4 linked regions of the Homo sapiens genome follow. The protein of the gene in region 2 interacts with the protein of the main gene of each other region in a pairwise test. Each region holds a gene or a part of one and is shown on either strand. Other genes may lie near its edges. The genes, in order: PUS10, KRT14, CTTNBP2 and ABI3.

Evidence for each region.
Region 1: the proteins of KRT14 (region 2) and PUS10 interact in binary tests that used the Homo sapiens proteins (3 or more experiments, as listed by UniProt).
Region 3: the proteins of KRT14 (region 2) and CTTNBP2 interact in binary tests that used the Homo sapiens proteins (3 or more experiments, as listed by UniProt).
Region 4: the proteins of KRT14 (region 2) and ABI3 interact in binary tests that used the Homo sapiens proteins (3 or more experiments, as listed by UniProt).

What each region holds. Positions count from the first base shown.
Region 1 is NC_000002.12:61,015,253-61,023,207, forward strand, and holds the start of PUS10 (tRNA pseudouridine synthase Pus10), read right to left. Parts: upstream 3,004-7,955; 5' UTR 2,756-3,003; intron 2,600-2,755; coding exon of another isoform or gene 2,508-2,599; exon of another isoform or gene 2,468-2,507; intron 2,180-2,467; exon of another isoform or gene 1,985-2,179; intron 1,972-1,984; exon of another isoform or gene 1,587-1,971; intron 1-1,586. Other genes in the region: PEX13 (peroxisome biogenesis factor 13), read left to right, coding at 2,508-2,599. UniProt on the Homo sapiens protein: Protein with different functions depending on its subcellular location: involved in miRNA processing in the nucleus and acts as a tRNA pseudouridylate synthase in the cytoplasm.
Region 2 is NC_000017.11:41,583,896-41,591,450, forward strand, and holds the start of KRT14 (keratin, type I cytoskeletal 14), read right to left. Parts: upstream 3,001-7,555; 5' UTR 2,940-3,000; coding exon 2,415-2,939; intron 1,163-2,414; coding exon 1,080-1,162; intron 519-1,079; coding exon 362-518; intron 27-361; coding exon 1-26. UniProt on the Homo sapiens protein: The nonhelical tail domain is involved in promoting KRT5-KRT14 filaments to self-organize into large bundles and enhances the mechanical properties involved in resilience of keratin intermediate filaments in vitro.
Region 3 is NC_000007.14:117,870,422-117,878,097, forward strand, and holds the start of CTTNBP2 (cortactin-binding protein 2), read right to left. Parts: upstream 3,021-7,676; 5' UTR 2,995-3,020; coding exon 2,914-2,994; intron 1,963-2,913; exon of another isoform or gene 1,805-1,962; intron 1,800-1,804; exon of another isoform or gene 1,516-1,799; coding exon of another isoform or gene 1,489-1,515; intron 1-1,488. UniProt on the Homo sapiens protein: Regulates the dendritic spine distribution of CTTN/cortactin in hippocampal neurons, and thus controls dendritic spinogenesis and dendritic spine maintenance.
Region 4 is NC_000017.11:49,213,707-49,220,706, forward strand, and holds part of ABI3 (ABI gene family member 3), read left to right. Parts: intron 1-2,824; coding exon 2,825-2,992; intron 2,993-4,032; coding exon 4,033-4,209; intron 4,210-5,833; coding exon 5,834-5,919; intron 5,920-6,151; coding exon 6,152-6,247; intron 6,248-6,462; coding exon 6,463-6,620; intron 6,621-7,000. UniProt on the Homo sapiens protein: May inhibit tumor metastasis. In vitro, reduces cell motility.

The sequences.
Region 1 (7,955 bases), on a different chromosome or scaffold from region 2:
ACTTTGGGAGGCCGAGGCAGGCATTATCACTTGAGGTCTGGAGTTCAAGACCAGCCTGGCCAACATGGTAAAACTCCATCTCTACTAAAATACAAAAATTAGCCACGTGTGGAGGTGTGCACCTGTAATCCCTGCTACTCGGGAGGTTGAGGCAGGAGAATCACTTGAACCCAGTAGGTGGAGGTTGCAGTAAGCCCAGGACTTTGGGAGGCTGAGGCAGGAGGATCATGAGGTCAGGAGATCGAGACCATCCTGGCTAACACGATGAAATCCCATCTCTACTAAAAATACAAAAAATTAGCCATGCGTGGTGGCACGCACCTGTAGTCCCAGCTACTCAGGAGGCTGAGGCAGGAGAATCGCCCGAACCCAGGAGGCAGAGGTTGCAGAGAGCCAAAATCGTGCCACTGTACTCCAGTCTGGGCAACAGAGCGAGACTCCATCTCAATAAATAAATAAATAAGATCTGTGTGGTCAAGGTCAAGTCATTACTATTTACTAGTGATCTGGATCCCTTTTCCCAGCCCATTTAATCTACTTTGATGCAGAGAAGAGATCGGATGCTGTGAGGGGCGAATATAAGCATTTACAGTGCATCTCTGACTACATACACAGAGAAACTGTTTCTGTTTCACCTGTTACTCTAAGTTATTTTTTCTCCATTAGTTAAGGTCAAGAATTTTACTTAATTCAGAAGTAACATTTAACTCAAAAAGAGACAGAAGAAATACACCCTCTTCCAATAAATCAATAAGCACTTTAAAAGGACACTTAATGAAGATTTCCCTCGATACTTAAATAGCTATATTAAAATTTATTTTATTTTCCATGGCTAGAAGACAATGTTTATTTTTCCAGTAAGTTCACAAGAACAAAGGTATCATGCAAAGTAAATAAATGACACATTACAATCTCCTGGCTCTGAGAAGTTCCCAAACCTGATTGATGAGAATTACAAAACTTCCAGTCCTGAGTAATTTGAAGAGGTCTAAAAATAGACCCCAAAAAAGACCTCTTTTGAATGTGTGTTAATAAACGAGCTATGAATTTACAAACCTCTCAACATCATTTTCACCTACCAACAATTTATCAACTTCTCAAGAATGTTAACATTAAAAGGAGAAAATACGTTACGTCTTAAATTTGGTTTTTTCATCGTGAGATAATTAAATGCCAGGATTTCATAAGATATTAGAAATCGGTTGTCCATATTAGATTTATTATGTTTGAAAGCAAGCCCTGAGAAAGGCATTCCACAATGTAAGTTTTCCAGTGTTGGTTACCCTCAAGATGTTTGCTTTTCGTTTATGTGTTTGTTTTATAGAAATAACTCTGTAACAAGTTGCTACAAAGCCGCCTTTCATGTGTCAGGCTCCCTAGGAGGACTGAATCCCTCCTCCCCAAATCAAGGATAACTAGCCCAGTCTCTGGCTTACTGGAGGAGAGGAAGGACTTTATTTTCACCTCTTGGACGATTACAAAAACCAGTCATCGAAAACGAGAAAAGGGGCAGGGTATAAGAAAAACTAGCGAAATGACCAGACTGAGTCTCATATCCTAAGATCTTTTAAAACTCATTTCCCTACCGAAGGGTGTCATTCGTAACGCGGCGTGGGGCTGGGGGTGTGGATTTACGGAGAAAGAGGTGATCACACTTCACTGGGCTTCTGAAACATTCAGCTCTGGAATCTACTGTGGACTCTTGAAAAGTTCATCCCGAGATCTAACCTCAAGCCTCAGTTTTCGCCAAGCAAGCCCTTCCCCCTTCGGTCAGGTGCAACAAACTTCCCACTCACCCCTCCTTTGCTAACAAAGCCGCTCCAGCAGGAGAGAAACGAACTCTCTCCCGCCACACCTCTTTTGCACCCAGTCTGCACTCCTTCACCTCTTACCTACCCGCCTCACCTTCTCCCCAGACGCCGGAGCCTGAGATTTAACCCCTTCCGGCCCTCGAAGGGAAGAGGGAAGACTAAAGACAACGCACCTATTGCGTCTAGCAATTCTGTTCCCCGAGGAAACGTGCGTTTTAGAACAAAAGTACCAGCCCGCTCTCGCTAGGACTAAGTGAGCTTCTCCCTTCTTGTTTGTAGAGGAAATCCGAAAAACTGCCTGGTTTGCCACCTCACCCTACCTCCCCCACGAGCGAAGGAGTGCGTGCGGCTTTACTCCCAGCCCGACTGGTCCACTCCCAGAAAAGCCTCGGTGGGACTCCGACGTCTAGGGAGTTGTAGCCGCTACCAGAAATATCGATGAGCCTTTACCCTGAGGTTTAGAAAGGCAGCTCTTTCTGGGGCAAATACAAAGAGCGTGTTTCTTCCTACAAATTAGTGGCATCCTCCCGCTGTATGGATTCAGCTGGCAAAGTAACTCAAGCCTTGTCCTGACTGCAAGGGTGGGCGGGGTGGACGGCTCGGTGTTCTGCCCGTTGTGTCTTACGCTCCAGGTGCTGGTCTACGCGGGCCTGGACAGTCAGGGGTAGGAGCGGGAGCCGAGAGGAGGCGGAGGAGATGGCGTCCCAGCCGCCACCTCCCCCCAAACCCTGGGAGACCCGCCGAATTCCGGGAGCCGGACCGGGACCAGGACCGGGCCCCACTTTCCAGTGAGTGTGGGATTCTTCAGGCTGTGAGTTTAGTGGGCCCGAGCGGGGACTTGGCAGGAGGCGGTTGTAGCGGTTGTTAGTGGAGGTATTCCCTTCCCCCCTTTAACCAATACCCAACCTTGGGGATAGGGGCCGAGGTGGAGCTGGGGCGCTTACCAGTGGGGACTTTAGTGTCTCACAGCTGTTTCTGACCCGGCAGCTCTAATCAGCAACGTTTTTTTCGGGAGCTCCTGGGCGTCTCTCTGGGTCTCTGTGCTTGAAAGAAAGGGGGGCGGCTTCCTACCTACCGCTTCTGTTTTCACTTTGACAGAATGGCTTCTCTATCTTTAAAGCGTAGACTTTGGTCTGTAGCAGTTGAGAGCGGCATTTGTCCAGCCACGGCATCGACAGGGAGCAAAGTCTCTCCTTAAAGGTGTTAACCTCTCGAGAAGTTGCTGAAAGCCGGAAAGGTTTTACGCAACAGGAACTCAAGCCCCGTACACTTTGCATTCTTTTCCAGCATAACTCAGCCAGTGTTTCGGATCGAGATTGGAGAAGCAACTTTAAAGCAGGAGTTCTAGATCTGAGGCCTATGGATGGACTTTGTGTGCAAAATAGTGTATTTTTCTGAGGCCTGTATTTTTTTTTTGTTTGGTTTTTAATCAGTATCAGTTGGTTTCTAGGACTTTAAAAAGGCTAAAACATGCAGAGTTGGGAGTGTTTCGTGGCCTCGTGTGGCTTTTGTTTGGTAGTGCTGGACATCTTAATTCAGATAGGTGTGATTCAAATGTCAAATCACCTACTATTGTAGGTTTTCCTAAGCGTAAAAACCCCAACATATTGGAATGTATTTCTGCTGTATTCTGAAATCTTTTATTTAAACACTAAAATGCTTTAACACAGTAACGACTTAGTTTAATAAGGATATATACATAACAAGTAATAAGTTTGATTAGGCTGGTAAGCCACGGTGACATTATCTGCTACCTTTTTTTTGAGTGGGTTCTTTTTTCCCCATTTAGGCTGCTTGTCGAATGAGAGAGGTTTTATTTTTTGCATCTGTTAAAGTTCTTTTTATGTAAAATTAACCATTTTCCCACTTTATCGTGAAATATTTTAAACACAGAGACCAGTAGAGAGTAAGATAATACCTATATATTCACTACTCAACTTTAAACAGTGTTAACATTTGCCAGACTTATGTCGAATTTTTCAAAATAAAAGACGGCTAAACTCTCCCATTCTTCTTTATAGTGGTGACTATTGTCCTTATTTGGTGTTTCGCATACCCAGTAATGTTTTTATATTTTAGTACTTAGGTTTGTGCTATTTATATGCATTTTATATCTAAAACTTAACAATGTAACAATAATATATATTTTATATCTAATTACATGTTACTATTTATATATTATTTTTTGTATCTGTTTTTGTTTTTTCTGTTGCCCAATTTTCTATTGGCTTTATCTTTGCTTACCAATTTGTAAGAGTATTGTTAAACTAATCCTTTTTTGTTACTACATTTTGCTAATATTTTTCACTGTGTGGCTTCTCCTCTTTATATTTATGTTCAATTTTTTGTACAGATGTTTTTGATTTTAATACAGCCAAAATTGTCATATTTTATTGTTTATGCTTTTTGTCTTGGTTAAGAAATCCTGTCTACCTAGATCAGGACAGTTTTTCTGTATGTTTTCTTTTAAATCTTCCGGTTTTTTCATTTGCATTTAATCCACATGGAACTGACTTTGTATAAAAATCTAATTTTTTTTTCCATATAGGTAACTAATTGTCGCAGCACCATTTATTGAGTAGTCTATTCTTAGTTTTTAATGCCATCTATGTCATATCAAGGTTTCCTAAATATGTAGTTCTGTTTTGGGCATTTTCTGACTTTCTACTAGCACCACACTATCTTAATTACAGAATTTTATAAGTCTTGATATGTAGTATGTCAAGAGTTTCCACACATTGCTGTTCTTTGTAATTGCGCTCTTTACACTTAGTCCTTTATAAAAAGACTTACTGGGATTTTTATTGGAACTGAGCTGAATTTATGGATCAAGTAAGTTTTTATTCCATGAATATTGTATAAGCTACAATTGGTGGGAATTTATCTTTTTGCCTTAAATATCTTATAATTATCCACTTTGGGAGACTGGGCGGGCAGATCACGAGGTCAGGAGATCGAGACCATCCTGGCTAACTCGGAGAAACCCCGTCTCTACTAAAAATACAAAAAAACATTAGCTGGGTGCGGTGGCGGGCACCTGTAGTCCCAGCTAATCAGGAGGCTGAGGCAGGAGAATGGCGTGAACCCACGAGGCGGAGCTTGCAGTGAGCCAAGATCACGCCACTGCACTGCAGCCTGGGCAACAGAGGGAGACTCCATCTCAAACAACAACAACAACAAAAAACTTATAATTACCTCCATGAAATTTTTTTCCATATTTTATTTTTTATTCCTAGATTATTTTTGCTGTAGTAGTTGCAAATGGGCTTTCTTTTTTCCTTTTACATTTTCCAGTTGGTTATTAACTGGTATGGCAGAATGCTATTGATTTTTTTTAATGTAAATATTATGTACAGCATAATCTCAAACTCTTAATTAGTTCTGATGGTTTGGTTGAAATTCTCTTTAGTTTTGTGTAGCCAGTTCTGTCATTTACAGATAAGCTAGCATCCTTGTATTGGTCCTGACTTCCACTGGAGTGCTTCTGAAGTTTTACTGTTAAATGTGAAGTTTGCTTTTTGTTTTTGATAGATATCTTGTCAAAATTCTCTCTCTCTACCTTGCTCAGATTTATTTTATTTTATTTTTATTTCATTTTTATTTTTGTTTGAGATGGAGTCTCACTGTGTCTCCCAGGCTGGAGTGCAGAGACGCAATCTTGGCTCATGGCAACCTCTACCTCCTGGGTTCAAGTGATTCTCCTGCCTCAGTCTCCCGGACAGTTGAGACTACAGGCGCGTGCCACTCCGCCCAGCTAATTTTTGTATTTTTAATAGAGATGGGGTTTCACTATGTTGGCCAGGCTGGTCTTGAACTCCTGACCTCAGGTGATCTGCCCACCTAGGCCTCCCAAAGTGCTGAGATTACAGGTGTGAGTCACTATGCCCAGCCCTTACCTTGCTCAGATTTTTATTGTGAAGAAATATTAAATTTTATGAATGGCTTTTCTGCATCTGTTGAGACCATTGTATGTATTTTCGCTTTAGTATGAAAATGTGGGAATAGGAACAGCTCTGGTCTGCAGCTCCCAGCGTGATTGACGCACAGGACGGGTGATTTCTGTGTTTCCAACTGAGGTACCTGGTTCATCTCACTGGGACTGGTTGAACACTGGTCGCACCCCATGGAGGGTGAGCCAAATCGAGGCGGGGCATCACCTCACCCAGGAAGCGCAAGGGATTGGGGGATTTCCCTTTCCTAACCAAGGGATGCCGTGACAGACTATACCTGGAAAAATGGGACACTTCTGCCCAAATAGTGGGCTTTTTCCACAGTCTTAGCAACAAGCAGACCAGGAGATTCTCTCCCATGCCTGGCTTGACGGATCCTATACCCATGGAGCCTTGCTCAGTGCTAGCACAGCAGTCTGAGATCAATCTGCGAGGCAGCAGCCTGGCAGGGGGAGGGGAATCCACCATTGCTGAGGCTTGAGTAGGTAAACAGAGCGCCCAGGAAGCTTGAACTGGGAGGAGCCCACTGCAGCTCAGCAAGGCCTACTGCCTCCATAGACTTCAGCTCTGTGGGCAGGGCATAGCTGAGCAAAAGGCAGCAGAAACTTCTGTGGACTTAAACGTCCCTGTCTGATAGCTCTGAAGAGAGCAGTGGTTCTCCCAGCATGGTGTTTGAGCTCTGAGAACGGACAGACGGCCTCCTCAAGTGGGTCCCTGACCCCCGTGTAGCCTGACTGGGAAACACCTCCCAGTAGGGGCTGACAGACACCTCAAACAGGCAGGTGTCCCTCTGGGACAAAGCTTCCAGAGGAAGGATCAGGCAGCAATATTTGCTGTTCTGTAGCCTCTGCTGGTGATACCCAGGCAAACAGGGTCTGCAGTGGACCTCCAGCAAACTCCAACAGACCTGCAGCTGAGGGACGTGACCATTAGAAGGAAAACTAGTAGACAGAAAGGAATAGCTTCAACATCAACAAAAAGGACATCCACACCAAAACCCCATTTGTAGGTTACCAACATCAAAGACCAAAGGTAGATAAAACCACAAAGATGGGGAGAAACCAGAGCAGAAAAGCTGAAAATTCTAAAAATCAGAGCACCTCATCTCCTCCAAAGGATCGCAGCTCCTTGCCAGCAACGGAACAAAGCTGGACAGAGAATGACTTTGACGAGTTGACAGAAGTAGGCTTCAGAAGGTCGGCAATAACAAACTTCTCCGAGCTAAAGGAGCATGTTCTAACCCGTCGCAAAGAAGCTAAAAACCTTGAAAAAAGGTTAGATGAATGGCTTACTAGAATAAACAGTGTAGAGAAGACCTTAAATGACCTGATGGAGCTGAAAACCATGGCACAAGAACTTCGTGATGCACGCACAAGCTTCAATAGCTGATTCAATCAAGTGGAAAAAAGGATATCAGTAATTGAAGATCAAATTGATGAAATAAAGTGAGAAGACAAGATTAGAGAAAATGTTTATTGTATCAACCTTCTATTGTTGAACCATCCTTGCATTTCTCAATGAACTTTGATTAGTCTTGATTTTTTTCTGATATGCAATTCCAAATTCTATTCTAAACCAGTTGGAGTGGTTCACATTTGTAATCCTAGCATTTTGGAAGGCCAGGGCAGGAGGATTGCTTGAGGCCAGAAGTTCAAGACTAGTCTGAGCAACATAACAAGACTCTGTCTATAAAAAATTTTAAAATTGGCCAGGTGTAGTGGTGTGTGCCTGTAGTCCTAGCCACTAGGGAGGCTGAGGTGGGAGGATCCCTTTGAGTCCAGGAGTTCAAGGCTGCAGTGAGCTGTCATCATACCACTGCACTCCAGCCTGGGTGACATAGCAAGACCCTGTCTCCAAAAAGAAAAAGAACTCTATTCTAATATTGTGAGACTGTTGCATACATGTTCCTAGGTGAAATTGAATTTTTTTTCTTTGTACTATTCTGGTTTTGTATCAAAGTTTTATAGCTAGATAGGTTTTTCTGTTGAGTCTAATTTCCTTTTTTTTTTCAGACAGTGTCTCACTCTGCCACCCGGGCTGGAGTGCAGTGGTGCAGTCATGGCTCACTGCAGCTTCTACATCCTGGGATTAAGTGGTCCTCCTGCCTCAGCCTCCTGAGTAGCTGGGACTACAGGTGCATGCCACCATGCCCAACTAATTTTTATATTTTTAGTAGAGATGGAGTTTTGCCTTG
Region 2 (7,555 bases):
ACCTGGCCTCTCAGGGCATTCATCTCCTGCACAGCCAGGGACAGTCCACAGTCAGGAGTTCCACCATGGCAGCGGATTGGTGTTCCTTAGGCCTGAATACTGCCCTCCCACCATCACAATTCTATCTCGACTCTCCCTTCTCTCTCTCTCTCTCAATCTCTCTCTCTCTCTCTCTTTTTTTTTTTTTTTTTTTTTTTTTTTTTGGACAGGGTCTAGCCTTGTTGCCCAGGCTGGACTCAAACTCCTGTGTTCAAGTGATCCTCCTGTCTCAGCCTCCCAAGTAGCTGGGACTATGGGCACGCACCACTGTACCCAGCCTCCCTGCATTTCTTTTAAGCTGACTTTTCCATATAGTTCTCACCTCCTCGTGGTTCTTCTTCAGGTAGGCCAGCTCCTCCTTCAGGCTCTCAATCTGCATCTCCAGGTCAGCTCTGGCCAGGGTCAGTTCGTCCAGCACCCTGCGCAGGCCATTGATGTCGGCTTCCACACTCATGCGCAGGTTCAACTCTGTCTCATACCTGGAATGACCCCAGAGAAAAGGTATGAGACACCCATCCTGATCACAGCGAGGGCTTTGTTCTCTTCTCCCTGCAGCTTCTCCCAGAGCTGGTGCCTTGTGGGTGGTTTAAGGAGCCAATCTTGAAAATGGCGTGGTTGAACACAGTGCCCATTGATTGCTCAGATATGAACATTCCTGCGGGCTGGGGATAAGGCAGTTCATCTTGCTGCAGAAATCAGGAGGGGGTTGCACTTCTAGCTTCAGCCAACAAATAATGCAGAAGTCCTCCAACTATGATTCCTTCCTATACTTCAAGGGCAGCTGGGGAAGTGGAAAGTGCCTCTCCCTAAAGCAGCGGTTCTGAAACCTGGCTGTGGACCAGAATCACCCAGGTAACCTGCTATAAATAGCTGAATCAAAACTCCAAGGGTGGGGCCCAAGAGTCTTATTCTTTTATAAGCACCCCAGGGAGTTTTCATGCACCTATCCTGGTACTGGCTAGTTCTATTTGGGAAACACTGCTCCAAAAATGCCCTACTCTGGGGACACTGGATGTTCTGGCCCACCATTTCAAACTCACTTGGTGCGGAAGTCATCCGCGGCCAGACGGGCATTGTCAATCTGCAGAAGGACATTGGCATTGTCCACTGTGGCTGTGAGAATCTGCAGGATGGAAAAGGCACAGGTAATTTGTCAAATGGACTTCACAAGCTGGACTTCACTGTAGCCTACATTAAGCTCTTGCTTCATGTTCTTGCCTGAATCCCCCTTTTCCCCCACAAAACTTGACCATAGCAGCCCAAAGGAAAACAGATGCCCCAGGCCTGTCCTAAGACTTTGCTAACTCATGGTCAACAGAGGGGGTAGATGCAGCCCCGGGCTTAGAATCGAAAGCCCAGGAGTTCTGGTCCCAATTCTGCCAGTGTCTTGCTGCAAAACCTAATGGGTCTTGGGGCTTCAAGTTCCCCACCTCCAGGTGAGGAGAATAATCTGAGGCTCCCTAGCCCTCCTTCCTGAGCTGACCTCTCTTCTGTCTGCATCAGCCAGCCCTGCCAGTCCTCTGCAGATATGCACATTCCTTTTCAAGCTCACAGGCCATGGGACTTCAAGTGGAACTTTCTCAAGAGATAAAACCCAACTAACACAGGGGATTAGAAAAGAGGACTCAGGGGAAGAATAAGAAGATATATTGGCCCCTGAGTCTGGTTGGATTTCCCCACCTCATCATTGAATTTCCCTAATCCATGCAAGTCATTAGAGCCCAACAGACTCCAGCAGGGAGGGCTCCCAAGTAATGTGGGAGCAGGGAGGAGGGGGCTAGAGTCAGGGCACAAGCCTGCCAGGCTCTCTCTGTGCAGGGCACATCAAGGGACCACACTAATTGTCTCTGCAGGCTCTCCATGCCCGCCTGGCTGTGGGGAGGGACCAGCCTGTACCAAGGCTTATGGGCGGCGGCAGCCACAGCCCAGACTAGTGAGCTAATGAGTGGTTTGGATGTCTTGCCTGGTCCCGTTAGAGCCTCACTCCTCCCCTGTGCTGGAGAACAAGTAGCTGCCTCCTGTGCTGGAAGGTAGGGCACAAGGGCCCCAGCCTTGGCTCTGCCATTAATTTGCTATGTGACCTGCAGCTGGTCACAGCACCTCTCGAAGCTTCAACTGCTTCCTCTAAAAAATGTAAGGATAGGAATCACTGATCTCACATGGTCTGAGGATTTGAGATCAGAAGGGGATGAGGAGGCTGGGGAAGGGAAAGCATCTTCTCACTGATCAGTCTTAGGGCATCCAAGACCTCGAAAGAAGGGATCTGGGGTGGACTCTGTCCTATAGAGAAATCTTAAGGTCTCAGGGGCCTGGGGCATGAATTGTTCCCAGAAGGAGCTAGCTGGAATGGTGCCTTCTGCTGCCCATTCACCCACCTTGTTCCTCAGGTCCTCAATGGTCTTGAAGTAGGGACTGTAGTCTTTGATCTCAGCAGGCCGCTGCCTCTGGTACCAGTCACGGATCTTCACTTCCAGGTCGGCGTTGGCCTCCTCCAGAGCACGCACCTTGTCCAGGTAGGAGGCCAGGCGGTCATTGAGGTTCTGCATGGTCACCTTCTCACTGCCCACCAGAAGCCCATCACCACCAGCAAAGCCACCACCAAAGCCACCACCCAAGCCAGCACCAAGGCCACCACCATATCCTCCCCCAAAGCCACTACCAAAGCTGCTGCTGCTGCTGCTGAAGCCACCGCCATAGCCGCCCCCCAGCCCGCAGGCTCCCCCAGAGGAGAAGCGGGAGGATGAGACAGACAGGCCGCCCCCGTAGGTGCTGGGGGCGCGGCAGGACCCTCCGGCCAGGACGGAGGAGATGCGGCTGGAGCCGCCCCCGATGCCGCCCCCGATGCCGCAGGAGCCCTTCATGGAGCTGGAGGAGGTGAACTGGCGGCTGCAGGTGGTCATGGTGCAGAGGAGGGAGGTGAGCGAGCGAGCAGTTGGCTGAGTGAAGAGAAGGTGCTCGGGTAAATTGGAAAGGGATGCGAGTGCTTTATACTCGTGGGTAGGGGGCGGGTCTGGCACTTTCCATTCCCCTTGGCTTTCATCACCCACAGGCTAGCGCCAACTCCCAGCCAGGTCCCTCCTCTCATCCGCCTCATCATGTCTGTCATATTTTACTGGAAACTCATTGTTTGGAGTGTTTTGGGCTTTCTTGTCCCGCCAGGCGTGATTCACAGGGGGAGGTGTGGGCCTGCAGGCTACACTTTCCCATCGGACCCTGGGAGTCCCAGCCCTCAGGAACCCGCGCACTGGGCTTAGCCAGGGTGACAGAGAGCAGGGCCTCTGCACCTTAAACCTAGTTACCTGCTAGCTCTCCATGAACTGAATGGGCCTTTAACATCCACGTAGAGGAAGCCTGCTGCTGCAGGGGATGGATACCCGGCTGGAAAGCACCGGCATGGCAAGGTCACCTTGGGCACAGACAGGCCTCCCTCACCATGACCCTCTATTAGAGACAAGGAGGTCTGGGGGGCCCTCCCAGGCCTGACCTCCCATGCTGTGCTGAGAAGTCTGTCCCATCCCTGAAATACACCCAGCTAGTCAGGTGTATCGTGGTTCCCACCCCAACATCCCCATCAAAGAGAAATCCAGGCAGCTCTCCCCAGCCCTGAGCACAGACCCTAATCTCCTCCCTATGGTGAGGATCTCACATCCACCACACCATAGGGCAGGTGGCCTCATGGAGGCCAGGAAACAGCCTGGAGTCAGGTGGGTCCTGGCTCTGCCATTTACGCCTCTGTGACCCAGGGCTTGGCACTTCTCTGAGCCTCAGTGTTCTCATCTGCAAAGTGGGAGTCATACCATCTATTCTGCTTAGTGCAGTCAGCTCTGAGAATCCAATGCGACAATGTATGTGAAAGGGTTTTGTAAACCGAGTATGGCAAGAAGCCTCGTTGGCATTGTTATAGCCCAGGCTTAGCCCCAAAGTGGCTGGAGCTGCATCCAGGAACAGGCCTAGGGGGGCCTTTTATTCTTCCAGCCCCAGATATCTTCTCAGACCCCCAGAACATCCCTAGTGTGGGCAGCTCAGGCGCCCTCGTTTGAGCCCCTTGTGGAACTGGCCCAGGAGATGTTCTGGGGAGGAGTAGAGGCTGGAGTGGAGCTGGGCTGTGCCAAGGGCAAGGCTGAGGTGGACACGAGGGTCCCTGACTCCTGAAGCCCCAAGGGTCAGGGGACATTTCTAGGAGTCCACTTGGTCCTGCTTTGGAGGTGTGTATATCAAAACTTCAGCAATCTCCCAGACAACCTCCCAAAGCAAACCCTTCCGGCCCCCACCCCACCCTCCCATCAGCCCCTAGGCTCCACAGACCCCGGCAGGCATGTTGAGAGGAATGTGATCGTGTCTGGGGCTGCCTGACGCATCCTATCTCCTCAGACAGGCCCCAACAGCCCCTGCTGGAGGCTCCAATGCTCTTCCTGGGATCAACTGCTCCTAGAAGAGAAGCAGGACCCTCTGTCACCCCCAACCCCACCTTGACTGTCACCAAAGAAGAAGCCAGAGAAGGGAGCCCCCCACTACTGTGGCCTAGGAGCTTGGAAGACAATGCTGAGACAGACATCTGAGCTGTGGGCTCCCCAAATCTGCCAGCAAAGGACTCTCAAGGATGTGAGTAAGCCAGGGCCCCACCCCGCTCCACCCGCCCCTGACAGACACTCCTAATCTCCCTGCAGAGAATGGTCCCCCCACCCTGGCCCAGCCCTACAATTTCCCCAGAGAGAGGCAACAGGGGTTTTGGCTGAGGGACAGATGCTTTTGTTGGGAGGCATGTTGCTGTTGGCTGTGGGGCAAGGGGAGGCTGTGCTCACTGGAGAAAAATGCTGTGTCCAGAGGGATCTGGGAGCGGGAATGGGGTGCAGAGCCCAGTACCGGCTTCCTCTGTGCCCCACCACCCCCACCCACCACCACCACCACCATGTCTCCTTCTTATGCAGGGATCAGGAATAGAAGCTCCGGAGCCCGGGACATAGGAACAGCTCTACTTTCCCTTTCATTTCATTCAATAAAACCCAAAAGAAACTCCTTCCTCCCCCTCCTCCGAGGGGAATCCAAAAGATAAAGATGGCAGGGAACCAATGACAGATCAGTCAATCACATAATCTTAAAAGGCACTTCTGCAGTCCCACCCCAACCCCACGCACCAACACCAGAACCCTAGCATGGAATATAAGCCTGATCCCCCACACCCGGTCTTAGAACCGTGACCCAACCTGGAGCCTGAGGCCAACCCCTGCAGACAAGGACTCAGTGACCAAGGAGCTGCAAACAACCCAGCCAAGCAGGGAGCAGACTTAGAGGACACCACACTCCCCTCCCCTCCCTGATGCCAAAGAAGCATGGTACTCAGACATTTTAAGGGAGGGCATTTTCTGGGGCATCAGGGGTTAAAGGGTTGTCAGTCCTGACTGCTGAGGCCCAGAGTACCCCCCACCTCTGGACTTCTAGGCAGACTTTGTGTGAGCACCATTACCTGACCCTCCCTCCAGCCTGCCCCAAAAGGAGGGGGGTAAAGGAGGAGCCCCGGGCAGGACCTCTTGTGGTTAGTGAGTCTCCCTGCACCACCCTGCATGGGGGAGCCCTCTGCCAATCCAAACAGGTGAAGCTGGCAGGGCCAGGCAGCACCTCCAGAGCCCACACTGTGTGCTGAGGACTGTGCTGGGGACCAGGAGATGGCATCCTAAGGAAGGAGGAAACCTCAGGACAGCCCCCGCCCTTGGAGTGCATGGCCTACTGGAAGAGACGATCCCTGCCTTTAGGAAGGTCCCAGCATGAAAGAGAAGCAGGAATGCACATCAACATTACTTAACATACAAACAAATGGAAGAAAAGCACAGACAAGTAAGATTGGTTTCCCAGGGCTGCCATAACAAATTACCACAAATTTGATGGCTTAAAACAACTGGCTGGGCACAGTGGCTCACGAATATAATCCCAGCACTTTGGGAGGCCAAGGCAGGTGGATCACCTGAGGCCAGGAGTTCAAGACCAGCCTGGCCAATATGGTGAAACCCCATCTCTACTAAAAATGCAAAAATTAGCCAGGTGTGGTGGCAGGTGCCTGTAGTCCCAACTACTCGAGAGGCTGAGGCAGAAGAATCACTTGAATCCGGGAGGCAGAGGTTGCAGTGAGCCAAGATCACGCCACTGCACTCCAGCGTGGGCAACAGAGCAAGACTCCGTCTCAAAAAAAAACAACAGAAATGTATTCTCTCTGGAATACATTCTGGAAACCATAAGCCCTGAATCAAGGTGTTGGCAGGGCCACACTCCCTCTGAAGACTCTGGGGAAGAGCCCTTCCTTGCCTCTTCCAGCTTCTGGTGCCTCCCTGAGTTCCTCGGCTTGTGGCAGCGTCGCCCTATCTCTGCCTTCATCTTCATACAGTCTTCATCTCTGTCTTTTTCAGTCTCTTGTAGGACACTCATTGGATTTAGCAATCACTCTAATCCAGTAGGATCTCATCTCAAACCTTACCTTACTTACATCTGCAAAACCCCTATTTCCAAATAAGGGCACATTCTGAGGTCCCAGGTGGACCCGATTTGGAGGAACCCTATTTGACCCACTATACCGCATAACAGACTGGGTGCTTGTCACCTTGCAAAGCAATAGTAAAAACTGGGTGGAGAGATAGATGGTTGAGATGAGATGTGGGGGCGGCCCAATCTGGAAGGCTTCTGGGAACAGCCTTTAGCGTGACACGTCAAGTCACCAGGGACTGGATGGCAGGGAGCCACGGAACTCTCAGGTCTTGGGTCCGTACTTGACATCATCCACTTTTTTTTTTTTTTTTTTTTTACACAGGGTCTCCCTCTGTTGCCCAGACTGGAGTGCAGTGGTGGGATCACAGCTCACTGCAGCCTCAATCTCCTGGGCCCAAGGGATCCTCCCACCTCAGCTTCCCAAGTAGCCAGGACTGCCACCATGCCCAGCGAGTTTTTACTTTTTTGTAGAGACAAGGTCTCACCATGTTGCCAGGCTGGTCTCAAACTCTTGGGCTCAAACGATTCTCCCACCTCAGCCTCTCAAACTGCTGGCATTACAGGCATGAGCCACCACACCCAGCTTCTTTTTTTAAAAAATGTTTATTTTGAAATAATGTTAGACTTGGCTGGGTACAGTGGCTCACACCTGTAATCCCAGCACTTTGGGAGGCCAAAATGGCAGATCACTTGAGGCCAGGAGTTTGAGACCAGCCTGGCCAACATGGCAAAACCCCATCTCTACTAAAAAATACAAAAAGTTAGCTGAGCGTCATGGCAAGCGCCTGTAATCTCAGCTACTCGGGAAGCTGAGGCAGGAGAATTGACTGAACCTGGGAGGCAGAGATTGCAGTGACCCAAGATCGCACCACTGCACTCCAGCCTGGGCAACAGAGCAAGACTCTGTCTCCCAAAAAAAAAAAAATGAAATAATGTTAGCCTTTAAGAAAAAGTTACAAAATAGGACAGAGAGTTCCTGTGTATCCTGTGTATCCTTCATCCAGCTTCCCCTAATGTGAACATACTACATAAGAATCATACA
Region 3 (7,676 bases), on a different chromosome or scaffold from region 2:
GAAAACAAAAATTTCAAGTTCAGCTGTTAATTTGTTTAACATCACTGTCGTGCATTTTAAATCATTGTCCAAGTTTTTCTTTGTCACTGCCACCATGACAACAAATTTTATACCTACTTCTTGTCTATTAGCTGCTCCAGAAAAGCTCAGAATGACAAGAATGTTGGTTGGCTTCCCAAATATAGCTCTAAAAAGATCTCCATTTTCCTTTCATTCCAAAATTCTTTGGTGACAATAAAAAGCATGAAGATTTCGTTTTCCATACTGCCTTATCCATTAGGAGTTATTTTCAGAGTGGAAACAGCAATATGGCCTATAAAAGTCATCACATTTGGCTAAGGCACTGAAAATAGCCCAGGTTTCCCGGCACGGTTCACGGCAAAGACTATTAATATGATCCTATTGAATAATGTAGCTGTTACCCAGCCTTAAACTTGGGATGCTTTCAGGATTTAAACAGCTAAGAATGAGGATCACAAACTAAATTTAAAACATTCCACTAAAAATGATATTAAACTGAAAACTATAAATTAAGCTTGTTTCTAAGCAACAATCTAAATAGTCAAAGCTTAGTGAAAACACTCACTTTCAAAAATAGCCTACTGCTTTAGAGCTTCCATTGACTCCTTACTGCCAAATGTATACATAAAAATGCACGATATGTAAACCAATTTGAAAGTCAACAAATCTCCAAAATGCAAAGTGAATTGTTCACTAAAATAAAAAATATCAGTCAACAAGAACCCAAAATGCATAAAACGCCTCTGATTTTTAAGGAGCAATTGTGATGACACATATCACTCCTCTACACTAGCTTTCCTTTCACTTAAAAATCAGTCTATAGGTCAAGCGGCTGATATGAGAGAACCATGCCTTATTAAGTCAAAACTATTTGGAGAACTAAAATAAAAGGCCCAATTTACTACAAAAGCCATCATCAAAATTTTACTAAAAATTCAGAAATTATTACTGGTTTTTAAACTACTAGATGAAGAATCCTTATTGCATCTCGCAACCCTAAAGGATTCTATGGAAATAGCAAAGAAGGTTCACTTTCGCAGATTTTCCATGGCTCTGCCCATTAACAAGGGTGAAATTATCAAATCCCCAACTATCAGCAGTGAAAATCAGACTTGAACATTTTAAACAGAAGAGAGGGAACACTGACCTTGTTAACACAGAAATCTGCCTGGCGTCCTGGGTTTTGTTTACGATCTAACCAAACAAAACTATATATCAGCTCTACAGACCATCAGTCAGATGTTTGTGTTTGGGTTAATTGTCAGGTGATTAAAATATTGAGGGTAACAGAAACCCATTCTGAGTGGATTAAGTAAACAAATTCAACCTTTCTGGGGAACAAGAAACACACCACACACACACACACACACACACACCCTCTTTCTTTTTCGTCCTTCCCCTTCACACACACACACACACACACACACACACACCCTCTTTCTTTTTCCTCGTCCTTCCCCTTCCCACCTTTTGGGGATGAAGGCACCAAATCATTTCCACTTGCCAGAGAGCCTTGTCTCAATAGCTAGTTTCCTTACTGTGCCCCACAGAGGGGAGCTGATTCACATAAGTGGGCAGGTTTCGTTTGAAATCTTAAAGTTCTCATTTTCTATGCAAAGAATGGAAACTCAATTTTCCCAAAAGTTCAAATCAAAACTTGCCAGTTTTACAAGTGGAAATTAGCAGTCCTCCTCCCCGTTTCTCCTTCCATTGCCAGGCTCAGCTCCTCTCACCCCAAGTACCTTCCTCCACATCTCTCCTCTCCCTCTCCAGAAAGCCCTACCTCCAGAGGGTGGGAGGAAGTTAAAGCGGCCCCCGCTGTTTACGCCCGGCCCTGCCCTCTCCTGCACTGATTCTGCTCAGGTCTTGATAGGAAGAGGGGGGCGTCCACGCCCCGCTCGCTCCATCCCACCCCATCCTTCGGCGGGAGCAGCCAGATCTGGCCAAGAGTGGGAGGCGCTCCCAGATCTGCCTTTCTCTGCAGCTCCTTGCAGCTCCTGCGAAGCTGCTTCCCAAACACCGAGAACCTTTTCCACCCAGGAAATGTGGGTCCAGCCCTTCCCCAAAGTAGAGGCTGGAAACCACCAGCGAGTCTCTACACCGGAATATTAAGGGGGTGAAAGTAAGGACCAGTCAAGAATGGTAGCGCATTCGGCCTCTAGACTCCAGAGAAGGAGAACAATGTCTTGAAACCAGGTGCAGAACCTCCACCTCTCCTGAGCATCGTCTCGGGAAGAACCAATCCATCCACCCCACCCCAATCACTACCACCAAGTAATGGGGCAGCAGGCTGCTAGGACCTAAAGCGCTGGCCTCAGCGGCAGCAGCGCCCACATCTGGACACGGCCCTCTCCCAGTGGGCCTCCCGAAGGCACAGGACCAGATGCACACAATGGGCATCCCCACACCTGCTGGGCGATGGCCCACCTCCCCCAAGCTGCTCTCCCGGGTCCGCTGAGCGGTACCAGGCACCCCCGAGACACGCGCTGGCAACCACGCGCGCAGCGAGAGGTGAACAATGGGGGGTCAAATTCGCCAGGAAACACGTCCCAGCCTTCTCCCCCGGCCAGAAGCGACCGCAGCGGAGGGAGTGGGCATAGGGGTCGCACTGGACGCAGACAGGGAGCTGGGAGAACCGGGCGACCCGGGGCCGCTTCCCGTGGGGCGCGGAAGGGACAGGAGGGATCCCCAGCCAGGGTGGCCGCTCCGCTCCCCCCCGCGGCCTCCGCCGTGTGGGCATCCCGAGGAAGGGGGGCCCCGATGAAGGGGCACCGGAGAGTCCCGGGCTTACGGAACGCCCCGGGGGTGCGAAGTCGGGTCCGGCTGGGACCCCGGCGCCGCCCCCGGCCCGCGTCTACACTAGCCCCGCGCCCGCCCCGGGAACTCGGTTACCGCCGCCTCCGCCGCGGCCCCCGCCGCGTCCTCCGGGGCCCGGGACAAGTCGGGCTCGCAGCTCGCGCCGTCCGTCGCCATCTTCCTGCTCTAGCGGATCCGAATGCGAGCTCGGAGCCGCGGCTCCGGACTCAGCCGTCTCCGCGCGGGCGGCACTTAACCCGCTGCTGTCCGGGACGCGGGCGCCTGGAGCCGGGAGCCGGGAGCCGCGGCACTCCCTCCGCCCCTCGCCACCGCCCTCGCCGCTTAACCCGCTGCGCGCCGGAGCGCCCCGCCTCGGTCCCGCCCCGCGCCCCGCGTCCCGCGCCCGGTGGCGCCAGCCGCGGGCTCGTGGAGGTGCGAGAAATGGGCGCACGACCTGGCTCCGCTGCGGCCCTGCGCGGGGACTGGGGATCAAAGACCACGGAAGAGGTGAAGGCAGAAAGCGCCCGAGGAGCGTTGCATTCCGCAGAACCCCAACCAAGCCGGAGAAATCCGTGCACAGACCAGATTAAATGTCAGGCCTCCTGAATCTGAATTCTCTGAAAGATCAGGGAAAATCCTACACTTCAGCTCCCTCTATCCCACCGCGAGGAATCACACAGGGCACCCCTTTCTTCTTAAATTGCTCTTTCTTAAATTTCATTGCCGCCAGGGTGTTTTTATCCTCCCTATATATATACACACCTGGCTCTGATTTATTCTATCGTTGACTCTAGTGTTTCTCCAAAAACAATTCTCAGATGAAAACGATTTGTCTGTCCTGTTTTCTTTTAGAACGTGGCACCAGCCCCTCAGCTCCTAACTTTCTATACAATCTCCTTTTCAGGGAATGTGTAGCGGGCTGTTTTATATTCTGTGACCCCCCTAAGTCTGAGATCTCTCCTGAAGGACTAACTGAGAAGTGTTAAATGTCATAGCTTTAAAAGCTAAATGTCATGTCCTCTACTTTTGAGAGAATTTAAAAAAATTACTCCCTACGTGTGAGGACACGTGTACATATACACCAAAAACAATCAAACAAAAGCCGTATTTGTAAAAATAGATTTTATGGGAATTACACGTCTCAGAAGATTTTTCATGAGATGAGTGAATTAGGCCCAAACGCTTAATCTTCCCTTTCCACATCTAATTCAGTTCCTACCCTTTGCTGCCAATTTCCAGAATGTGAAAATCTATCACCTCACCAAGACCATATGGTACAGCCCTTCCCAAATCACCAGATCCCTAAAAATGTGTCGAATGCATAAAATCAAATTGAGACATTCAAGCTGTGTCTCAAAGACGTAAAATCAAACCACAACCAAATCTTGCACTTGAAATTTTGGAAGATGAATGACTAGAATGTTCAGTCCAAGGGTTACAGATCAAAGCTTTTTTTTTTTTTTTCCTTTTTTCTTTCTTTCTTTCTTTCTTCTTTTTTTAATGGCAGGCTCCTAATGAAAGGTTTTGACTCTTTAATTGCTCCACTTTCCAAATTAGACCCAAATATGACACAAACCAGGGCAGAGAAAATCTTTTCTGCAAAGACCCTGAAAGGGATTGATTAATAAACTGTGAAAAGTTCCCTCCCAGAAGAGAGGTCAAGAAAGAACTTTACCTAGAACTCTGGGGCTAAAAGTCAGAGGCTTAGAAATCATCTCCAGGTTATCCTGTGAGTACAGGTACTTATTTATTTATTTATTTATTTATTTATATTGGCTCTGATAGTTACTCCCTCACTTATCCCTTTAATATCCATCCCTGTTCATTATACCACTTTCCTTTATTAAGTATACTCTCTAAAACTGCTCAATATTAGAATAACTAGATTTCTTTAAGATTAAAGAAAACCACTGGACAGTAAAAGTTAGATGTCAAACTGATAGTAAAAATTTAAAGTCCAAGGGCATTCCTTGTTCTTTTCAAAATGCACTTCCACACATTGCAAGGCAATCAATTTTCTTGATTCTGATGTTGAATACTTCTCAAGCAATTAACTGGCAAACTTCTGGAAAAAATAATAATAATAAGTTTTACTCAGGGTTAAGAGTTAGAAATATGAAATGACACCATCTCTGGGAAGCAAATCCCTTTTATACATGCAGCCCAATTTTTAAAAAAAAATCACTGGGAAAAAATTAGCTTGTATTCACCTAAATACAATTAAAGCAGGATCATGTTACAAGGAAATCAGTCCTTGCCCACCCCCCCCCCCCACCGCAAACCCCCACCCATCATTTTTTGTTTGTTTTTGTGAAATGGAAAAAAAATAAATAAAACAGTGATAAAAATCACAGGACACCACATTCTCTAACCACCAAAATCCAGTACCTGGGAAGGAGAATTGACAGCATTCTGTTTCCACCTTAAAACCAGCACTGTTGAAGGTTGGCTGAGGATCTCACCTACTGCACAGAAGTGGCACACTAGGAGTTAACTTCCTCACTAGTAGCCTGGCCTGGGGCTGCTTCTCCACCAGGAGGACACTTGCTGGTTTCAATTCTCTCTTGAGAATTAGTCTCTGCTACTATTGCAAATTAACTCTTTCTAAGACTTTCTTTGCACAAAGGCAGGCTCTATTACAGTCAAAGCAAATAGATGTGAAAGGGTATTGACTTGATGGCTCCAGAAATTAAATCTTTTGAAGCCTCATTAAACAGCTAAATAATAATAATAATTAATAATAAAAATAAAAGATATCCCAGGGTTACAGTGAAAATTACTGAAAGGCAGGGTAAAAAAGGAGAAAGATAGAAGTATAAACAGGAGGAAAATAAATCCCTACAACAAAAATGAATCATGAGTCTTAATCAGTAAATTCCTTTTGGCATTAAAATGGAAGGAGTAATACTGAATATATTGCAAATAGAGAAAACTATTATTTACATCCTTTTTTTGGATCATAACGATGCTGATGACCCACTGACTAAAGAATTTGAGGGTAATTATTTTCCAAACCCTGGAATAGAGGTATTTGTGTTGAGCTATAGCACACTCTCTAAGGGTGAAATGACCAGGGAAATGAGTTCTTAAAGGTGGGAATGCAGACAGATGTTTGGGAGCCAAGTGGTTTTCTGATTAAACCATGTCCTTGGCTTCATCAGCCATATCCTCCAACCCACTAAACCAAAAACCCAGAGTTATACATATGATACAACAGGATGCTTCCTTCCATGTGAAAAGATAAAGGAATATACACAGAACCTAAAACTCTTTCCGTCATGGAGTAAGAGAATTATTTATTTCAGTCAAATGACAACATTTATGTTAATTCCAAAGAGCAAACCATATGTCATCATGTCTTAGTATTGCCAAATGACAAAATTATTGAGTAGCAAATCATTTCTGACTGTATCCTCAAGCCTATAGTTATACAATTTAAATATTGCAGACCATGCTTGTCCCTGTCTGCAGCATGGTGACCAACCTAGGAAGCCCCAAATCTTGACGTCAGGAACTCCGCAGATGAGCTCTGAGTGTCCATTGCCAGAAACAAGTTTTCCTATGACCTAACTACATTCCCTCATAGCACATGTCATTAGCTACATGTGCCTCAGGCTTTTTGTGGATTTTACTCAGTAAATTTAATTCTAATCTAGTTAGCCACTCTTGTCAACAATCTATGGTTTTGGAAGGCCTCCTCCACCAACTGCAGTTGGTGTGTGCCAAAGGAATGCAAGCTAATTTTACCTAAGCTAAAGCAAAACATAATTAGGGAATTAAATCTGCTATGTAGGAAGCAAGCCAAAGCGAAACATAAATAATTATCATAATCACTCCCAGCCCCTTTTAATACAACCTTTAACTGGGAACTGTATCTGTTCATTCAATTGCTGAAATAATGTACAAATATAAGATTTGACTGCAAGGTTAGAGCCACATTAAGAAAATCATCCCCCGGTACAGTCACTCTAAGAACAGAAACCAGCTAATACCAAACAATGAAGTAGTGTTGGTTCCATTCTCTTGCATGGTTTTTACATTTTAAATCATTAGTTGTTGGTTTGGATGCTTATCTGCAGAAGTCATTTACAAGAGTAAATTTTAGTGCAGAAAGATGTTTTAGTGCAATACCATTATGGAAAAACAATTTTAACAAAAAAAAAAATCTGGCCTGCTCTTGCCCCTTATCCACCTGAATTGGAAATGGACCTGAATATTTCTGTTTATTCAGCCTCTTTAGCAAACTCACAAGCCTGCAGTATATAGTTACTAGGCAATCATTAAAGCAGGGGTGTTTATACCATTAGGCATTACTCATAGTGGAGCTTCATTTATCTTAGAAAGTTTAAAAACTATATAAATATGTTGTGAGATCAGGCCCTTTTCTCCTCTGATTAGAAGTGTGGATCCAGCTGCAAAACCACAGCTGAGATTTTTCTTTCACTTGGGGATATGCACTGTTCAACACAAAAGGAAATTTAGTGTTCGAAGAATTAATAAGAACACTAAAGATGTTATCTTTTGATTTTAATAAATATGCATATGGCATTTATGATTGACTCAGTGAGGATTTACTTAGGATACAAAAAGCAGGAGAAAAGCTATACATGTGTAACTCTCCTGTGTCAAATTGTGAAATAAACCAATACATTAACACTTCCTAGACAATCATAATCAATTGTCATATACCAAATTAATAGAGTTTCAAATACATTTGGAATTTTTGAGATGTAAATTTCACCTTACCCTGCCTCAAATCTCACTTGATGACAATAGTTTGTGGCTGTTTTTTTTTGTCCATCAAGACTTTTTTTATTAATCCAAATTAGTTGGGGTTATTTAAAAATCACCTGGAAATG
Region 4 (7,000 bases), 7.6 Mb from region 2:
AGATGCCCAGAGCTGGGCCCAAGCAGACACTTTTCCTGTTTGGGCCAACAATTCCACATGTTCGTTTGGGGAGGAAACTGTACAGAAGAAGGCAGGCAAGCTAAGAAATCTGGGTGGAGATGAAGGAGCAGTCACTGCTCAGTTCTGGGCCTGTTTCCTCATTTAGTAAAGGAAGGTCCTGAACTAAATCAAAATCTGCTCTCCTGTCTGGTGTTAATATCCTGGGTTGATTTCTTTGCCTATTCAATCTTCTTGGTGACCTATGCTGAGGAGATGTAAGTTTTGGTGCATATGCTAATGAGATGTAAATGACATGCAAATGAGCATCTCTTTCCTGCTGTTGGAAAAGAAAGACAAGGAGGAGAGAGCCATCGCATGGGCTGCCCAGAAGGTTCTGGCTCAGGCTCCATTAGAGGCTCCCAGGTGTCTCAGACCTTGCTCTGAGAGTTTGTAGGTCTGTTCTCCATTGACAGGCCCTGAGGGGCACCCGAGGGCTCAAGCAAGGGGACCCCAGTGTGCAGCCTTGCCTGTTGGCCCACTGGCCCTACTCCACATTCACCCTGGACTTGCCCCCTACCTGCCTTAGAAAGGTACAGGCTAGAGTATGGCAACTCCATGACCCGACCAGAGATGAGGAAGCTGCCCGGGGAACCAAAAGACCGGAGAAGTTTTGCCCTAGCCCCCACTGCCTGATCTGGGACCAACAAAAAAAAATTTCTTGGCCAGGCGCAGTGGCTCACGCCTGTAATCCCAGCACTTTGGGAGGCCAAGGCAGGCAGATCACCTGAGGTCAGGAGTTGAAGATCAGCCTGACCAGCATGGAGAAACCGCATCTCTACTAAAAATACAAAAAATTAGCTGGGCGTGGCGGTGCATGCCTGTAATCCCAGCTACTCGGAAGGCTGAGGCAGGAGAATCGCTTGAACCCAGGAGGCGGAGGTTGGGGTGAGCTGAGATTGTGCCATTGCACTCCAGCCTGGGCAACAAGAGCAAAACTCTGTCTCGAAAAACAAACAAAAAAAACTTCTTGCCTTCAGCCACTGCCTGCTTACTCCTCCTGCACTGACTGGCAGTGTGACCCTGGCCAGTGCCTGGCACAGTGCCTAGAATACAGTGGGAATGTGCCCAGAGAATGTTTGGGTTCCCATTCGACCTGCTAATTAACTCACGAGTGCATATTTATGAAGAATCTTTTGCGTGTTGGGTGTGATTCCATGACGGGATACAGGATGAAACAGACAAGCTCCCTGCTCTCATGACACTTCCGTTTAAGGCAAGGGGGCGTAGATAACGAAAAAAATACATAGAGAATGTTTGATACTGCTAAATACCATGAAGAAAAGAGAACAAGGTAAATATGATAAAGAGGCAGTGAAGGCGTGGGCTGGGGGAAATCTTAGTGTGGTGAAGGAAGGTGTCTCTGAGAAGCTGAGGCCTGCTAATAAGGATTCTGAAAATAAGTACAGCACATGCCAAGGCCCCGAGGCAGAAACAGTTCAGCTTGTTCAGGAACAGAAGCCCAATGGCCAATGTGGCTGAAGGGGAGTGTGTGAGAGGGGGAGTGGTGAAGTTGGATTAAAGGGGATGAAGGTGAAGAGAAAGGCAGGAGCCAGACCTGGAGGGGCTGTACGTAGGCCACGGTTAGAAGCTTGAATTTTATCCTCAGGGTATTGGAAAGCTATTAGAGGGAATGAATGAATAAAGTCCCTCTGTTCTGGGCCTCAGTTTCCTTATTTGAGTTCCCAGACACCAATCTGCAGACTGGAGCTAAACAGTCACATGGAAAGCTTTTTTTTTTGGTTTGATTTTGAGACAGGGTCTCACTCTGTCACGCAGGCTGGAGTGCAGTGATGTGATTTTGGCTCACTGCAACCTCCGCCTCCCGGGTTCAAGTGATTCTCATGCCTCAGCCTCCTGAGTAGCTGGGATTACAGGCAGGCACCACCATGCCTGGCTAATTTTTGTATTTTTAGTAGAGACGAGGTTTTGCCATTGTAGCCAGGCTGGTCTCAAACTCCCGACCTCAAGTGATTTGCCCGCCTGGGCCTCCCAAAGTAGTGGGATTACAGGTGTAAGCCACCGTGCCTGACATGGTTTGTTGTGTTTAAAAATGTCGGCTGGGCACGGTGGCTCACGCCTGTAATCCCAGCAGTTTGGGAGGCTGAGGCAGGCAAATCACCTGAGGTCGGGAGTTTGAGACCAGCCTGACTAACATGGAGAAACCCTGTCTCTACTAAAAAAAAAAAATTACAAAATAAGCTGGGCGTGGTGGCACATGCTTGTAATCCCAACTACTTGGGAGGCTGAGGCAGGAGAATCGCTTGAACTCGGAAGGCGGAGGTTGTGGTGAGCCGAGATCGCACCACTGCACTCCAGCCTGGGCAACAAGAGTGAAACTCCATCTCAGAAAAAAAAAAAAAAAAAGAATGTCTGCTCTAGCCAGTGTTGCCTTCCTCTTTCCTTTCTACTATTCACCCCCACTCCAACCCCTAAAAGGACAGCCTGTTACTGAAGTCTTCAGGAGGGTTGTACTATCATCTGTACTCAGTCCTCAGCTTAACTATTTGAGAATGGGTATCTTTCCCTCCCTTTGCATCCATTCCCCAAGGCTGCAGATTCACTTTTTTAAAGTGAATTTAAAGTGATGTTGTAGCAAGTTCCTCTTGCTACATCATTCTGCTGGGAGCCACCTCAAACATCTAAGGGTTGCTGCTCTCTCCCAATCCAGCCCCTACTTTCCCTATATCCTCTCCCATCCCACCCCAGCCAGCCAAGGACCCAGTGGAAGATGCTGGCCCTTAGGCCAGGGCTGTGTGTATTTCAGGCCACAGACAAGCGGAAGGCGCTGGAGGAGACCATGGCCTTCACTACCCAGGCACTGGCCAGCGTGGCCTACCAGGTGGGCAACCTGGCCGGGCACACTCTGCGCATGTTGGACCTGCAGGGGGCCGCCCTGCGGCAGGTGGAAGCCCGTGTAAGCACGCTGGGCCAGGTAAGGGGCGTGGGGCGTGGGAAGGCATCTTGTGTCAGGCCTCAACTCTTCAGCCCGACTCAGACATTTTCTACATCAAAAGTTCCTTCCTGCTTTCCTCCATGTCCAAATGCCCAACTCTACAGCAGAAGGTTGGCACTTCCCAAGCTTTTTGGACCTCCTTATCTCTGTGGCTACGCTACAAATTCCCCGAAGGCAGAGCTTTTTCTTTCTCGGAATTATATCCTGGACATGAGAAAGTGTTATCTACCAATCACAGCAGCGCCCTATACAGGAAAGAAGCAAATGAACCCTGTTTGCATCTAAATACAAGCAGTGCCCTCATAAATATCCCAGACCCAGGGTGCTAGCTTGACAAGGTCATCTTCAGCCCTGGAAGCACAGCCACCACTATACAGTATACACCCTCCACCCCGCCACAGTGTTCTAGCGCACACACCCTCCTCCTTCCTTCCTGGATCCTTGACCGAGGAATTGCCCCATAAAGCACATGCACAGACCCAGCCACACATTTGGCCTGGCCTGTACATCACCCACATGTTCAGTGGGTGGGGTGTGTCTTTTCCTCCCCCGCCGCAGACCAGAGTTCCCACCCTTTCGAACTGTAGGCTTTCTCCATGGAACATTCTGAGAGGAAGTCAATTTACTTATTTGTCCCCCAAAGGGGAGAGCTGATCCAGCCACCATTCTCTGCCACCTCCATATTCTCCCCCTCTGCTCCGAAGTCAGCCGGGTGCTTGTCTCCTCCCAGCATCCCTAGGGATGTTGTGTTTTCTCTTTTCCTCCTGTTCCTGCACAGCTAATAATAACCCATACTCTCTTTCCACCAGGAAGTTGCTCCAAAGTGGCTCCATCCTTTCCTGCTACTTTTCCCAATTGCTATGTAGCCTGGTGGGGGGCGGGGGGCGGGGGGCAGGGCCCTCTTTTTCTAGACCTGGCTGCCTCCCCCCCCCAGCCCAGTCTTTATCTTCTTCCTCCTTAGGGGGAAGGGTGCTGGACACAGACCACCCCTCTCTGTCACCTTGAACCCTGTCATGCAGATGGTGAACATGCATATGGAGAAGGTGGCCCGAAGGGAGATCGGCACCTTAGCCACTGTCCAGCGGCTGCCCCCCGGCCAGAAGGTCATCGCCCCAGAGAACCTACCCCCTCTCACGCCCTACTGCAGGAGACCCCTCAACTTTGGCTGCCTGGACGACATTGGCCATGGGATCAAGGTAGAGAGAGGGGCCCTCCTCTTTCCCTCCAACCCACCCTCTCGTGCCTTGTGGCCCCTTTCCCTCCAGAACCCCAGTTCTGCAAGTTTTGTCCCCACTTGCCACTCCTTTCTTTCCCCGCTCCCTGAAACCACCACTCTGAGCTCTTCTCCCTCTCCCTAGATTTTGTAATCCCTCCCTCCAAAACTGGTCTGTACCATCCTCGGAGGATCTGCTGAGTGTGAGATCCTGAGCACCCCTCGCCCCCCCGCCCTGCCCCTGTGGGCACCGGGCGTGTGGGAAGGGGAAGAGGGGGAAGGGAGGATGTCAGGGTGTGCATGAGAATGGCTCCCAGCCACATGAGAACAGCAACTTCCTCTGTCTGGGGGTTTGAGGTCACTGCACTGAGCAGTCACCCCAGAGCTGCTGTTGGTGAGAAGAAGCGGGGATACAGCCACACAAAGGGGACTTGGTGAAGGGAGGGGAGCATGGCGCTGGCGTCTTCTCAGCCTATGTCCTTCTGCGAGGTCAGAAAGGGCACGCACTCACACCCGTCCCACCTTCAATTCCTGTCTCCACACCTTAACATTTCTGTATCAAAATGAGCCCCTTGATATCCTTAACTTATCAGCCCCCCTTAAAGGGGAAACGACATTCTCCCCTTCAACCACCAGGCCTCCTTCCCACCAGTAGTTCTCTGTTGTCCAACTTATATTTTTTTTTTTTGAGATGGAGTTTCGCTCTTGTTGTCCAGGTTGGAGTGCAATGGCACGATCTTGGCTCACTGCAACTTCCGCCTCCCAGGTTCAAGTGATTCTCCTGCCTCAGCCTCCCAAGTAGCTGGGATTACAGGCGCCCGCCACCATGCCCGGCTAATTTTTTTTTTTTTTTTTTGTATTTTTAGTAGAGATAGGGTTTCTCCATGGTGGCCAGGCTGGTCTTGAACTCCTGAACTCAGGTGATCCTCTTGCCTGAGCCACCCAAAGTTCTGGGATTACAGGTGTGAGCCACCACTCGCGGCCCAACTTATATTCTTTGTGCTTCAGCTCAAATCTCTTTTGTCTTGCCCCTGGTGAAGCCCATGGGGTAACACTGTACCCACCCCTTGGGGAAGTCCCATTGGTAACAGCAGTTCCCTCTTTCATGTAGGCGTGCACCCTGTCATTTGCGCATCCCCTCTAAGTGGCCTGGGTCTTGCTCCTCTCTGCCCTAACTCCCCAAAGCCAGTTCCACAAATCTTCGAAAATGAAAGGTGGGACACTTCTAAGTGTGATGTGTCCTCTCCTTTCTCCGCCCCCTCCTCAGCCCGATCAAAGTTAGGGACCACCAAGCCAGGGCCCCAGCTTCCTGGGCTCTGAGATGGTCTGGGGGAGGGACAGGGGTGCTGGGCCCACTCAACCCGCTGTGGCTGTGCAGAGGAAGTGGCTGTGGGCTTTGGTAGAACTGAGTCCCAGAACCCAGGCAATGACAAGGGGGTGGGGTGGGGGAAGTGTAGGAGAGGGGCCTGAGAAGTGGAAGTGGGAACTGGCTATGCCGGGCTCTCCCTCCCGGTTCCCGTCCGCCCCTCCTCCATTTCCTCTTGGGGATGAGGGTGGAGGGAGGCCCCTCACCCCAAATGTAAGCCCTACCTCCCGCTCCCTCGCAGGACCTCAGCACGCAGCTGTCAAGAACAGGCACCCTGTCTCGAAAGAGCATCAAGGCCCCTGCCACACCCGCCTCCGCCACCTTGGGGTGAGGCCTCGCCGCGACGCCAACTAGCCTAGCCCTGCCCCGCGCGACCCTGAAACTCTCCTCCCCCAGCCTCGCCACCCACCCCTGGCGCCCCCGGGTGCTCAGGCCGTCATGCTGGATGCCTGGCGCCAAACCTCCCCCTCGGCCACCTGCCCTTCCTGCTCGCACCCGACCCCTGCTGGCCAGAAGCCTTCCTCCTTCCTCCTAATACCCACTCCCTGCCCCCCGCCAGGAGACCACCCCGGATTCCCGAGCCAGTGCACCTGCCGGTGGTGCCCGACGGCAGACTCTCCGCCGCCTCCTCTGCGTTTTCCCTGGCCTCGGCCGGGTGAGACCTACAAGCCCACGTGGGTGGGTGGGGGGTGGGAAGTGGCTTTTGAGAGGGGCCACCTGCCAGTGGTCATAGTGACTCCTGGGCTTGAAAGGACCCAGTTACTCCTGGGTCACACGTGCAGGGCTGGGGTCAGGATTGGAGGGGTGGGGCCAGTTGGGGATGCTGCATTAGGGAAGGCGTGTCCGCCAACCGGGCTCTCTGGTGTTCAGCAGCGCCGAAGGTGTCGGTGGGGCCCCCACGCCCAAGGGGCAGGCAGCACCTCCAGCCCCACCTCTCCCCAGCTCCTTGGACCCACCTCCTCCACCAGCAGCCGTCGAGGTGTTCCAGCGGCCTCCCACGCTGGAGGAGTTGTCCCCACCCCCACCGGGTAAGGAGGTCCACCCTCTTCTTCCCAACCGTGGGGTCGCTTTTCTGCCTCCTGCCACTCCCCAGCCCACCTCTCTTGGATCTGCCCCGGCCAGCCTCAGTGAATGCCTCCTCCAAGGAGCGCAGCACAGGGGCGAAAGGAGACAGAGGAAGTGAACTAACATAACTTAGCGCCTGCTGTATACCAGACCCTGTGTTCGAAGATTCTCATCCATTTTCTCATTTGAACTTAATCCTGGCCGGGCGCGGTGGCTCACCCCTGTAATCCCAGCAGTTTGGGTGGCCGAGGCGCGCGGATCACCTGAGGTCGGGAGTTCGAGACCAGCCTGACCAAAATGGAGAAATCCGGTCTCTACTAAAAATACAAAATTGACCGGGCGT